Linked DNA regions of Homo sapiens. The protein of the gene in region 2 interacts with the protein of the main gene of each other region in a pairwise test. Each region holds a gene or a part of one and is shown on either strand. Other genes may lie near its edges. The genes, in order: XRCC4 and APTX.

What was found.
Region 1: the proteins of APTX (region 2) and XRCC4 interact in binary tests that used the Homo sapiens proteins (3 or more experiments, as listed by UniProt).

The regions. Positions count from the first base shown.
Region 1 is NC_000005.10:83,199,484-83,206,778, reverse strand, and holds part of XRCC4 (DNA repair protein XRCC4), read right to left. Parts: intron 3,228-7,295; coding exon 3,072-3,227; intron 1,965-3,071; coding exon 1,858-1,964; intron 1-1,857.
Region 2 is NC_000009.12:32,972,022-32,977,829, forward strand, and holds the end of APTX (aprataxin), read right to left. Parts: intron 5,182-5,808; exon of another isoform or gene 4,368-5,181; intron 2,541-4,367; coding exon 2,437-2,540; intron 1,668-2,436; coding exon of another isoform or gene 1,663-1,667; exon of another isoform or gene 1,632-1,662; coding exon 1,477-1,631; 3' UTR 595-1,476; downstream 1-594. UniProt on the Homo sapiens protein: DNA-binding protein involved in single-strand DNA break repair, double-strand DNA break repair and base excision repair.

The DNA.
Region 1 (7,295 bases), on a different chromosome or scaffold from region 2:
AGATTTCCAGTAGTTTTTCCTCTGTCTACTGCCTTGATGGTTTTACCTGCTCTCTTTAGTTACTCTCATCAGTATACAAACATATTCTTTCTTTTATTTAAAAACAACAAACAAAAATACTTTTCTTTATCCTACTTCCTCCTCCAGCTGCCGCCCCATGTCTTTCCCATTTTTTACAGTGAAATTTGTTGAAAGTATTGCCTGTCTCATCTCCAGTTCTCTCCTCCCATTCCCTTTGAAACTCCTATTCTCTCCTATCCCCTTCCTTCACCAATCCAGTGAATATGTTCTATTAAGATCCTTAATAACGTTTGTATTGCTAAATCCATCAATCAGCAGGATACCACATTTATATTTTTGCCTCTTACCTCCTGGCTGCTCCTTCTCAGTCTTATTTGCTCAGTCATAACCCCTTCATCAGCAAATCCTGCTGCCTCTAAGCACACCTAGAATCTGCTCCTTGCTCATCGCCTCTCCATCACTCTGGTCTAAGCCAGCCTCATCCTTCACCGAATTGTTGTACTAGCTTCCCATCTGTTATATCTTCTTCTGCATTTGTCATCCTATAGTCTATTCTTAACACAATACACAGACTAATCCTCTTGAAATTTGAGTCAGATTATGTCACCTGACTGTTTAAAATCCTTCAGTAGTTTCCAAGTTAATTCAAAGTAACAGGAGAAGTTCTAATGGTAGCCTATATCGCCCTACACGTGATGAGGTCCCATCATCTCTCTCATCTCATTTCCTAATTCTCCCAGTCTTCATCTTTCTACTTTATCCAGATTACACTCTATAGTATTGCTTAAACGCGTCAGGAACTTTGTACTTAGTGTTTTTTTGTTTTTGTTTTTGTTTTTGTTTTCTGTTTGGCATGGTCTTCCCCAAGACAGCATGTCACCTTCACCTTCTCACTGAGGCCTTTTCTGATAGTCTGGCTAAAATCATAACCCTCATCCTTATTCTCACCCTGACCTTTCTAACGCCTTCTCTGGTTTATTTTTCTCTTTAGCACTTATCAACCTAACATATTTTATATTTATTCATCTTATATGTTTCCCTGACTACAATTTAAACTCCACAATGGCACAGATTTTTGTGTTTTGCTGTCTAATGCATAGCAAAGTTTCTAGTACATAATAGGAACTCAAAAATATTTTCTAAATAAATAAATCAAGCATTTATTTTAATAGTATTGGTTTTAGGTCAAAACCATCTAAGTATAAAATGAGTTCAGAGGCTCCTGTTTCCACCGTCACTAGGAAATCTATAAAACATTTTAAAAAATAACTCATGGGTTTAAACACTTGCTGGGAACTTGATCCAAAGGACTGAGTAAGTCATAGGTACTTTGTACTAAACTGCCATTTTTCCCCTTCTCTTTTCCTCTATTACATCTCACTTGTTGCAATCTTTTTTCTGAAGAGTGAAAGAAGGCCTCAACTTCAGTATAATTTAGAGCATTCTTGATTACTCTGCTCCAGTGGCCTATTCATGGCTTTAGCTAAATAAGATCTCAAATGTTAAAGGCAACCAGCTTTAAGCTGATGATATTTAGCATAAAGGTGTTTCTTCCTCATTGCTTATGCTTTTCCTGGTTATATTTAACCAGGAATAGTATACCTTGGAGTATATGTGTATGAATGCTTGCTCACACTGCTGTGCTAATGAGTTGCTGCATTTTACAAATAATATTAAGTTTTAACATTAAAAATTTGAGTTTTTAAAATAAAAATGCTAAAGAATTTTCATAGAATAAGGTCTTTCACAACATTTTTCCATTATGGTTTCTTGTCATTAGAATAAGAAGCCCAAATAAGATATTCAACAGAGGAGATAAATGTATGTATCTCTTACCTGAAGCCAACCCAGAGAGATCAGTTTGGTTTTCACTTTCCTCATCAGTACTCTCATCATAGACTGGATCTCGGTCAGCAGTCATTTCAGAACAGATTGCAGTTTCCCTAGAAACAGAGAAAGGTAGAATTATAAATAACTGGCTCACCCCCTGCTAGGCAGCAGATTTATCAGTAAGCAATTATAGAAAATATTCCTAGAAAAAGATTCTAATTAGACAAACATATTGAAAATATATATGATTTAGATGAAAGCATCTTAAAACCTATATATTAACTCTCTTAAGAACAAGTTTCTCTTTTACCTAATTTTAATCTGAATTTAGTACTTATTATAATTAATATTAAATCAGTTTCTTATCAGGTACTATTCTTCCATCAAAATACTTTTTCTAACAAATTATCTCTGTGAGTCACAGAGTATTTAACATTTTACTAATCTCAGAACAGTTCGCATTTCATTTGATCTCTGCAAAACCCTAAGATGGGTATCTTTACCTTTATTATGAAGATAAAGTGACTTGTCCAAAGCTATAAACTAATAGGTATGACTGCAAGACCAGTACCTGTGCTAGGACTAGCTGATATCAAATTTTTTTATACTACGTCACTGGTAATTCTGTACTTCTACTAAGATTCAAAGCAACAGACCCTAACTTGTATTTGCTAATGCGTAAAAAAGTTATAATCGTCGAAAGCCGTATCAGCCATTTGTCACTTAGGATTCTTCCATAAAAATCAAGTACATATGTACTTTCAGAGAATATGTGAAAGAAGAATAAAACTGATAATCACACTCTAATCAGATAAAATAAGTGCTCCCTGGAATTTAATATTAACCACTTGATTCTAAAGTTAATCATTGCCTAGACATCAAGATTACAAATATGCATCCAACTTTTGTAGTTCTGCAGATGAAAGTTTTTTTTTAAATTAGTATGTCTTACTAATGTCTAAGAATTAAATAATACTTTAATAAGCCTCATGTCAGTTTTTTAATTTAAGTGTAGGTGACACAGTTGAGCAGACATAGAGAGACCATGCTGAGAACTCTCTAGCCCATGGTACCCCTATCTAACAGCCTGAACATCCACATCCAGACTACCAAATTATCTCATATGATCAAAAAGTTGGCATCTAATGTTCATTAACTTTGGGAAGAAATTCCACTTAAATGTATTCATCTGTCATCCAAAAACAAGATAGCGAAAATACCCTTCTTGTTTGATGTCCTTTTCTCGTTCTTGAGCTGCATTTAATAATTTATTATGCAAACTTCTGATTTTTGTTTTCTTCTCATTCAACACCAGAATAAACCGCTTATAAAGATCAGTCTCCAAAGCTTCCTTAGCACTCACACATTTTTCAAATCTAAAAAAGTAAATAAGTAAACAAATTAGTCATGCAGTTCTGCTTAGCATTAACATAATTCAGCCTAATAATCAAGAAGATTTCAAGGAAAATACAATTAAAGATTATTTTCACATATGCTTTCACTGACTTGGAAGTTTTATAAAGATGGTTAAATACACAATTAGAAATTATTGGTTATTAATGTAATTTATTTACTGAGATAAGGATCAAAATTGAAAACTGATACAAATAAGCCTTTAGAAAATCAAAATGCCTAAAGATAATTTATTGATACATATGGTTTATTTACAAAAGAATGTTTTTATGGGATAAATTTCAAACAAGAGTAAATGTAGCCTGTTTCCTCAGTACTATGTTAATATTACTATAAAAGCAACTACAATCTTATTTTGTGATAAGGCAACATAGCTAATTTGTCTGATTTATCTACTAGACAACAAACTGCTCCACAACAAGAACACGACTTATCCAGTTATATTCTTATAAGCGAGCACCACACACACACACACACAAATACATATAGAAATGCAATACACATACCCAATGAAAGTATTCTACTTGATATATTCAAGGAGAGATTAATAAAACAGCAAATGTAAAACACTACATATCTTCAAATTTAGATACGTAAGACAAAACATACAAAATTCTCTATTGTTTTTAATTCATCCCATACTGCTCAAATGAGCTAACAAGGGATTGTATTTATTTTAAGCTCCCAAGAGATATATAAAGAAAGCAAAATAGCTGAGGTTGTATATACTTAATATATGCATACACATACATGATGAATACATTCCTATTTTATTGATTCAAATACAAATTATTTTATGTATTCTTTTCAATGTTGTTTCATACTGCTTATTTACATTGTTGTTGTTTTACAGGTATCCTAGTATTTTTATACTGTACATAAACACACACACACATATATACCAGTAGTAATATATATGTGTGTGTACATATATAGACACACACATATATATTTCAGTGAAATTAGAAACACAAATGTCCAAATTAGATAGCTTTTATATACATGCCCTTAAACTTTCAACAATCTACCTATCTAGAGATGCAAAGAATTAGAACGTATCATAGGATAAAAAGGAAAATATGGCAATATATTCTCTGGGACCAATTTCAGCAAATTCTTACAGCACAGTCTTTGCCAAAGATGTGAACTCCACGAAAGCAGACAGCATGTGTGTTTTATTGGCCACTGTATCCTCAGTGCCCAGCATAGTGTTTAGCATTCGACAGATGTTTGGTAGGTTCTTATTAGACAAACGAATAAAGTGAATAAATTAATATGGACATCTTTTTGGTTTATTTATTTTCCCAGTGGTTTATTCGTTTTCCCAGCTTTTCTGCAGAGTTATTACAAGGCCTCAACAGTGCTTTAGTTTTTCTTTTCAATATCCTGTTCTGCAGCTTCCTTGGTCCTTTTTGCCCAGAGGCCAAAGAGCCAGGCATTGATATGGCAGGTTTTTTGTTTTTTTTTTTTTTGAGACAGACTTTCGCTGTTGTTGCCCAGGCTGGAGGGCAGTGGCACGATCTCCACTCACTACAACCTCTGCCTTCTGGTTTCAAGCGATTCGCCTGCCTCAGCCTCCCGAGTAGCTGAGATTACAGGCACCTGCCACCATGCCTGGCTAATTTTTGTACTTTTAGTAGAGACAGGGTTTCACCATGTTGGTCAGACTGGTCTCGAACTCCTGAGCTCGTGATCCATCTGCCTCAGCCTCCCAAAGTTCTGGGATTACAGGCGTGAGCCACCGCACCTGGCCTGACGTGGCAGTCTTGAAGTTCTCTTCCTCCTTGGTGATGACTCTGGCTTTCTCCTTCGTATAGGTATTTCATATGAACATTACCGGTCCTGTCAGTGTGATGGCCAATTTGAGTTCTTCAGTGTAGCTGTCTCTCTTCTCGGAGGCTGAGGTTTCTAGAGAAGGAGGATAAGCTTCCAGCAGTACTCCTACAGCTGTTATACATTGGCCTGCAGGGACTCAGTAGACTTGTCTCACCTCCTTGGATCAATAGAGAAATCAATGGTCCAGGCCATCTTCTTGTGGATGCTGGCCACCCTTAATTCTTCCAAGCTGAAGCCCCTACCAGCTTGTACTTGGTGTGAAACCTCATGTGGGGCATTTTACTAGGGGCCAGTGGGTCCAGATACAAGGCACCGGGCAATGCAGTGGGCTTGCCCAGTCCCATGTCTGTGGCTCTTCCTTGCAGGCTGGGTGAACCATATTGCTATAGGCCACTGCCAGTACTTACAAAAGTGGGGCTTCAGGATTATGCCATTCCTGCTGGGCACCATGGCTGACTATAGCCCTCCAGCAAAGAAGAAGAGCCAAGGAGAATGGCTAATATTGACATCTTATAAGGAAACAGAAAAACAGTGATTCCGAATATTGTATTTTTTCCCTCATTTAATAGCTATTCACCATTGTAAAAGTAATGTTTTTCATCTTCAGCTTTTAAAAAAACTGTGGCAAATAATATCAATCTAACAGTATTCCCTTCATTAAGCAAAGTTCTCTGAGAAAGAAGTACACGAAAGATGTTAGAAAAAAACTGAATATTGAAAAGGAGCTAGCAATATTGATAGTTTATTTTAAGCAAAGACATGTCACTACATTTATATTTCAGATTCAGTGTTACGTAAGCATGATATTCTTATCTTCCTATAATATTTTCAAAAAAACACAACAAAAAACTTTAAAACATACATATTACTGAAATACCTGAGTATATAATAACATACTTCAAACATATGCAAAGTAAAAACCAATATGTGAAAACATATAAACAAATATATTACAATTTCTTATATTAAATTTTAGGAATGGTAACCAATTAGTAATTTATCTGGTTTAAGTCCATATTTAATTTCCATATAAGTCACTTCAATAATTCTTGATTGAATGATGATGTGTACTTAACAACTAACAAGCTAATTCCCAAACCTTTATTAAAATTAACATTTGGTATGACACATTCAAAGTGAAAATAAATATGAAAATGAAATATCATATAATATTCCTAAAGAATATTGTTAATCTTAAGTAACCAGTATCAGATCTATGTTGTCAAAGGAAACATTTCTGTGACAGGAAAACACAGTCAATAGAATGAATGGTATCATGTGAGTTAACCTTGCTTGGTTTCAGCAAAGCTTTAGGATTTTTTTGCAACCAAACTTCTGATCATCAAACTGGACAACACTTCCTAGAAAAGTGGGGGAGCGGGAGCTGACTGGAGAAAAAGTATTAGTGTGAACAGTTGCATGACATGAATTTACTCTTAACTTTTAATTTTTCAAGACTCAGAGAATGCTATCCTTTTATCCAATAATCAGTAACTAAGAGGTATGTCGTATCATTCCCACCTAATTTTTAATGCCAATCCTCTCCTAGAGCATTATGATGTTACTATGCATTCCATTACGTGCTTCCTGTCAAGCTTATGCCTCAAGAAATTGGACAGGAACTGTTAGGTGAGAACATTTAGTGGAGAAGAGACATGGGATTCACTGCTAAGTCTGGTGACACTAACAAAAAGCCCATGTACAACTAGATCAGACCACACTAGTCCAAGGATCAAATCCAGGCAAATCTCAAATTGGGACGAAATCACAAATAACATCAAACAAGAAAGGTCTAATGATACTTCATCCTTTCTACAATAACTAGGAAAACAGAACAATAATGCTAAATTTAATTAGCAACCTAGCACTGAGGTATCTAAAACCTTGGACAAAAAAATAGTAATTTTTTTTAAAAAATTAAAAGGATAAAAAAATACAAAAAAATACTGAATATTCAAAATAAAATGTCTCTGGGTGGGAAAACAATCTAAGAATAACATGTCAAAACAATAACAAACTAGGAGGAAAAACACAACAATTTCATGCAGAAATAACACCAAAAATGAAACAACAGATTAAATGATAGCTCAAAATAAAATAATAGATATATAAATGTGAACATATGGTATTTAGACACAGTGCAGTAATCCTTAAATTAATAATCAGTTCTGGCCAAAATTATATCTGGCCCAGGT
Region 2 (5,808 bases):
GGAAATCAATGAAATGCCACGGAAAGCTTTTGATCAGCACAGGTCCAAGGCCCCTGGGTTCTATGGCTTCTGCTGTTAGTCTTGCATTTATACTGTTCAATTGATAAGAAAAATAATGAGTTGATGCATCAGAATCAATACCAACTTTGGATAGTGCCCAGGAACCATTGTAGAATATTAGATGCTCATCCACTAAAGGGGCATAACAATAGCACGTAACCTCATAGAGTTATGTACAGTGAGAATTCAATGAGATCACTTGAGTACAGTGTTTAGCATAATGCAGGACACACAGGAGTCAGACAAATGTGAGCTGCTATGATCATTAATTATATAATTATTACTATACCTATGTTCACTAAGTAACCACTGTGGCATCTTGTTTGTTTGTGAAAGACATTGAGGTCAAATGTCTCTATGGACTGTGGCTTTTTCTCTCCAGAAGAAGCTTTTGTTAAGGGTGTTTCCTTTTTTCTCACAACTTGAGTGAAAAGTCACATCCCCAAAGATATCCACAATTTCATCAAACCCAACTTTTTAGTTTTCCCTTCACCTTTAGTTCTAATATTATCCCAAAAAACAACTGAATACAACTGTTTTATCCAAATTTATTCTCAGGGAAAAAGAAAGTAGTGGCTCTACGCAACTTTTTCATTCACCAACCACCTTTCCATGCATCAGAACCTATGCTGTGATTGTTAGCTGAACTTCAATAGTTTCCACCTACTTAAGAGAGATGCCTCAAACAAATTAACTTTATTTTCAGACAACAGGTCCAAGAAGACTTCACAGCTCAATCATGACGAACATGTGGCTGTTTCCTCACAGCCAGGAACCCTCGGTATTAGAAGAAAACTCCAACCCCCCACACCATCATCTAGCCTCTTTTCTCACTGTGAAGAACTGATGAGACAGAATTCCTGAGAAGGGAACATTTAGGTAATCTGGGATAGAAGGGCATGGAAGGACTGGACAAACTAAGCCTCCCCATGAAGGAAGGGAAAAGAATATTACAAAACAGACTAACAGAAAACAAGACCCATCAGTATCTTCAGGATAAACAAGAGGCCACTCTAGATGCTCTGATTAAAGGTTGTCCATGCCTACAGAGGCGGAGGATAAATCTAAGAAACAGAAATGTATAACCAGCCCAATGCTTCCATACTCTGCATTAGGTCAGTGTGAACATGGCTTTGCTCCCAATGGTCAGACCTGACATGGGTCCTTCTGAAGATGGTGGGTCAGGTATATCCCAGCCACCCTCACCAGAGAATACATCTATGACAAACCCAAATTCCTAATCCTGAAGTACTTTGAGCCACTCTACATTGTGGCCACTCAATAATAGAATAAATTTGTGAAAAAGCTGCATGTTTTAATTTAGGAAATGAGTAGAAGTTCACAAGCAACCCAGAATAGGTGCCAGCAGTTTGCTCCAGTGGGCCACACCACAGCAGCAGCTCAGGCTCTGCAGAATCACTGTGTCCAGTGCTTCCTGAGATGTTCTTTCAGCTGAGGAATGGAAGGCAGCAGCTGCTGGCACTCATGACAACGAAGGGGCAGCTTCAAGAGCTCAGGCATCCCATCTCGGACAGTTACTCTACCAGCCTCTTGTACCATCTCGATCACAGCTGCAGGCAAGGAAGAAAAGTCAAATCCCAGCTACTCTGGAAAACCAATATGAGATACCAAAAAAAAAAAAAAAAAATCAAAAACGTGACTCCAATCAGTATGCCAGGCCAGGTATTCTACAGCTCCGTAAGCTTAGTTTAGACTTCCCTCAGGCAAAATGAGCTTAATCAGATTATAAATATGAGCAACCCACCTTTGAAATAATACACTCCTTCAGGACACACTCTAGGCAATCCATGTTACTCTGTCAAGAGCTCATCAGAGTGCTTTACCTCTGGTTGGCCCTTGGTAAATGCCAGCTGCCATTGTGAACACCCCATCAATGCTTAAGTTCTTACACACCAGGAAATGCTTTCCTGGTGTGTAAGAAAGCATCACACACCAGAAAATGCTTTCTTCTACATATACACAGGGTTCCCCCTGCTAATTCACCACTCCTGACAGGAGGCAGCCCCAAAGCTCCCACCCAACTGATGGCAGAAGAGACAAAGAATTGTCCACAGCTTTCTTATCCATGAACTCCACTAATTCTCACGGCAGCCTTTAAGTCCCCTTTTGTCACAATAAAACACTGACCCTGACATAATAGCTTTCTAGGTCCCCCAAGAAGACAACTCACAGCAAAGTGGCAATAATACTACAATCCAAATAATCCAGTTTCTTTTCACAGGGCTCGCTTTATAGGGAACACAAAGTTGTACATAGGTTTTTGAGGTCAGACTGTTATTCAGGGAAACAACCAAATCAAATATAAGAACAGCTCAGAAAATGAAACAAATGTGAAAACCAAGGAACACTGTTTACCTTGTGATTCTAGGAAGTATTCTGTATTGAAAGAATTCCAATGTTTTTTGTTTTTAAGGCAAGGAGAATCAAAATCCTGGCTGATCACATGAAGATGTACATGGCTAGTTGAAAGAAAAAAAAACTGAGCATTAAACTCTTTAACAACTATGGCTTAATCAAAATGACAAAGAGTATGAGTACATTGTATATTCATACTATTGAATACTCTTTGAATATTCATACTATTGAAGTGATAGTGTGTCCATTTAATTCAATTGATTCATTCATTTACTTAAGAATATTTAATGCTCAATAAGTATGTACTATGGCCAAACACTGTTCCAGGCACTGAGACTTTAGCAAGAAACAAAATGGGAAAAGCCTCTGCCCTTATAGAAATTGTACGCTAATGAGGAAAGACAAATAATAAATAAGCAAACAAATAAACAAACAAAAAAAAACTTAAAGAATTAACATTGCCAAGAAAAAATAAACAAGGAAAATGGGATAGAGTGCCCAGGGGTAGAAGCTGCCCTCTTTAGTTAACAGTGTTCAGGGAAAGCATCTCCCGGGAAGTGATTTGAACGGAGACAGCACCCAAGCAAGCTAGGTCTGTGGGAAGAGTGTCTCAGAAAGTGAGGAGGCCAAGAGCAGGGGCCCTGAGATGAGGAAAAGCTCAGTGCAACCAAGAAAGAGAAAGAAGGTAATATGGCCCAAATGTATGGCCTGAATTGTTGGAGCCAAGCAGCAGAAACGAGGCAGGAGCCAGGTCATAAAGCCTCTTAAAGGTGACAAAGGGTTTGCATTCTATTCTGAATCTACTGGGAAGCCATTGAAGGATTTTCAGCCGAAGAGTGCTACTATCTGATTTATACTCTTTTTTTTTGTTAACAATAAAAATTGAATTATAAAATGGACCACAATTTAAAAGTGGGCCTATTTTAATTTTATTATTCTTAAATTCATTCTTTTGAAAATGCAACCAGGTGCGGCGGCTCACGCCTGTAATCCCAGCACTTTGGGAGGCCGAGGCAGGTGGATCACTTGAGGTCAGGAGTTCAAGAACAGCCTGCCCAACATGGTGAAACTAACTACTAAAAATACAAAAAACTAACTGGGCGTGGTGGCAGGTGCCTGTAATCCCAGCTACTTGGGAGGCTGAGGCAGGAGAATCACTTGAACCTAGGAGGTGGAGGTTGCAGTGAGCTGAGATCATGCTACTGCACTCCAACCTGGGTGACAAAGTTAGACTCCATCACTAAAAAAAGAAGAAAAAGAAAAAGAAAATGCACTTTATTTTTGAAATGATAAAAGATTTAACTATGAGCTGACAAAGTAGAGGTCGGCTGACATTAGTGGGTCAACTCTTCATGTAGATATTTAAATGCTGTTTTTTCTGTATTACATCAAAATGATTTGCAATAGGAAATTGGAAAAGGGGAGCAAAGCAGAGTGCAAAGCATATACTGAGGTCTTTCCATGGGTATCTGATAGAATGCAGATTCAGCACAATAAAATGTAGACTGCAGCAGTGGCCTGTAAGTGTACTCCAAGCGTACCGTAAGAACCTATGTAAAAACCATTTTTTTCTTATTCCTAACAGAAAAACAAATTTTGTTTTGTTTAAACAATAAAATGTAATGGAAAGATCTGTACTGTAAAACTACTTGCTATAAACTATCACAAGGACAGAAAACCAAACACTGCATGTTCTCACTCATAGGTGGGAACTAAACAATGAGATCACTTGGACACAGGGCAGGGAACATCACATACCGGGGCCTGTCAGGGGGGTGGGGGGCTCGGGGAGGGACAACATTAAGAGAAATACCTAATGTAAATGATGAGTTGATGGGCGCAGCAAACCAACATGGCACATGTATACCTATGTATCAAACCTGCCTGTTGTGCACATGGACCCTAGAACTTGAGTATAATAAAAAAAAATAAAAACTACTTGCTGTAGCCCATGTGTTCAGTTTGTTCAACAACCTCACTCACACATGATGAATTACATGAATAGAAAGTCACCAAATAAGACTCAAGACAAAAAAATTATCTATCAACCTCCATATGAAAAGACCACAGCTTTAATGATTTATACAATCCTTAAGCTTAATATCTGGTCAGTATAGGTTTCCAAATCAAAATCAAGTCATAAGCTGTTACAATAACTGCATTATACTAACATTTTCTTTCCAGTATTTCTTCCTATGAGGGAAAAAAATCATCAGAAGCTTTCACTCTTGAAAAGCGTCCTAAACTAAAACAGTGTTCTTCTCCAAAACGAAAATACTCTACAAACAGTAAATAAAAGCTAAGCTAATTTCAACAGTCATATTTCCAAAAGTAAAATCTATTAAGTACAATACACCTGCACAAGAAATTACAAGAAATGATTACAGTTACAGATGCAAAATAACATCTAATTATCCCAGGCTTGTGAACATAATAATTAAAATCAAATTCATATGCTAGTCCAAATATTATGTACAATTTAGATAAGCTGGTCAAGTATTATTTGAATATACACCATATTTGTTAAACCTAAAATTATATTACCTTTTCTTGTCCTTTAATATTTGTAGATACACGCCAATATGAAAAAAAATGTAATTTCCATTTATGTATTAACAGAGAATTTCTACTGCACATGTTTTAAACCGTTAAAAAATAAAAAAGTCAAGGTACATTTTCACTTAAGAGATAAAAATAAATTACCAGAATTTTAATTGATAAAAGTTTCATATCAATTTATAAAAATGACCCAAGCACGTGGCTCATACCTGTAATCCCAGCTACTCAGGAGGCTGATGCAGGTGGATCACTTGAGGTCAGGAGTTCAACATTGGCCTGAGCAACATAGTGAGACCCTCATCTCTAAAAAATTGTTTTAATCAGCCAGGCATGGTGGCACACCCATAGCCCCAGCTACTCGGGAGGCTGAGGCAAAAGGATACCTGGAGCCGAGGAGTTCAAGGCCGCAGTGAGCTATGATCTTGACACTGTACTCCAGACTGGGAGAGAGGGTGAGACTCCCATCTCTTAAAACAAAAACGAAAACAAAAAATGAATAAAAAAATTCATTTATAAAAATGGGGGGGAAAAAACCTGGGTGCAGTGGCTCACACCTGTAATCCCAGTACTTTGGGGGGCCAAGGCAGGTGGATCATTTGAGGCCAGGAGTTCAAGACCAGCCTGGCCAATATGACAAAACCCCATCTCTACTAAAAATACAAAAATTAGCTGGGCGTGGTGGCGCATGCCTGTAATCCCAGCTACTCGGACAGCTGAGGCATGAGACTAGCTTGAACCCAGGAGGCAGGGGTTTCAGGGAGCTGAGATTGCACCACTGCACTCCAGCCTGGGCAACAGAGTGAGACTCTGTCT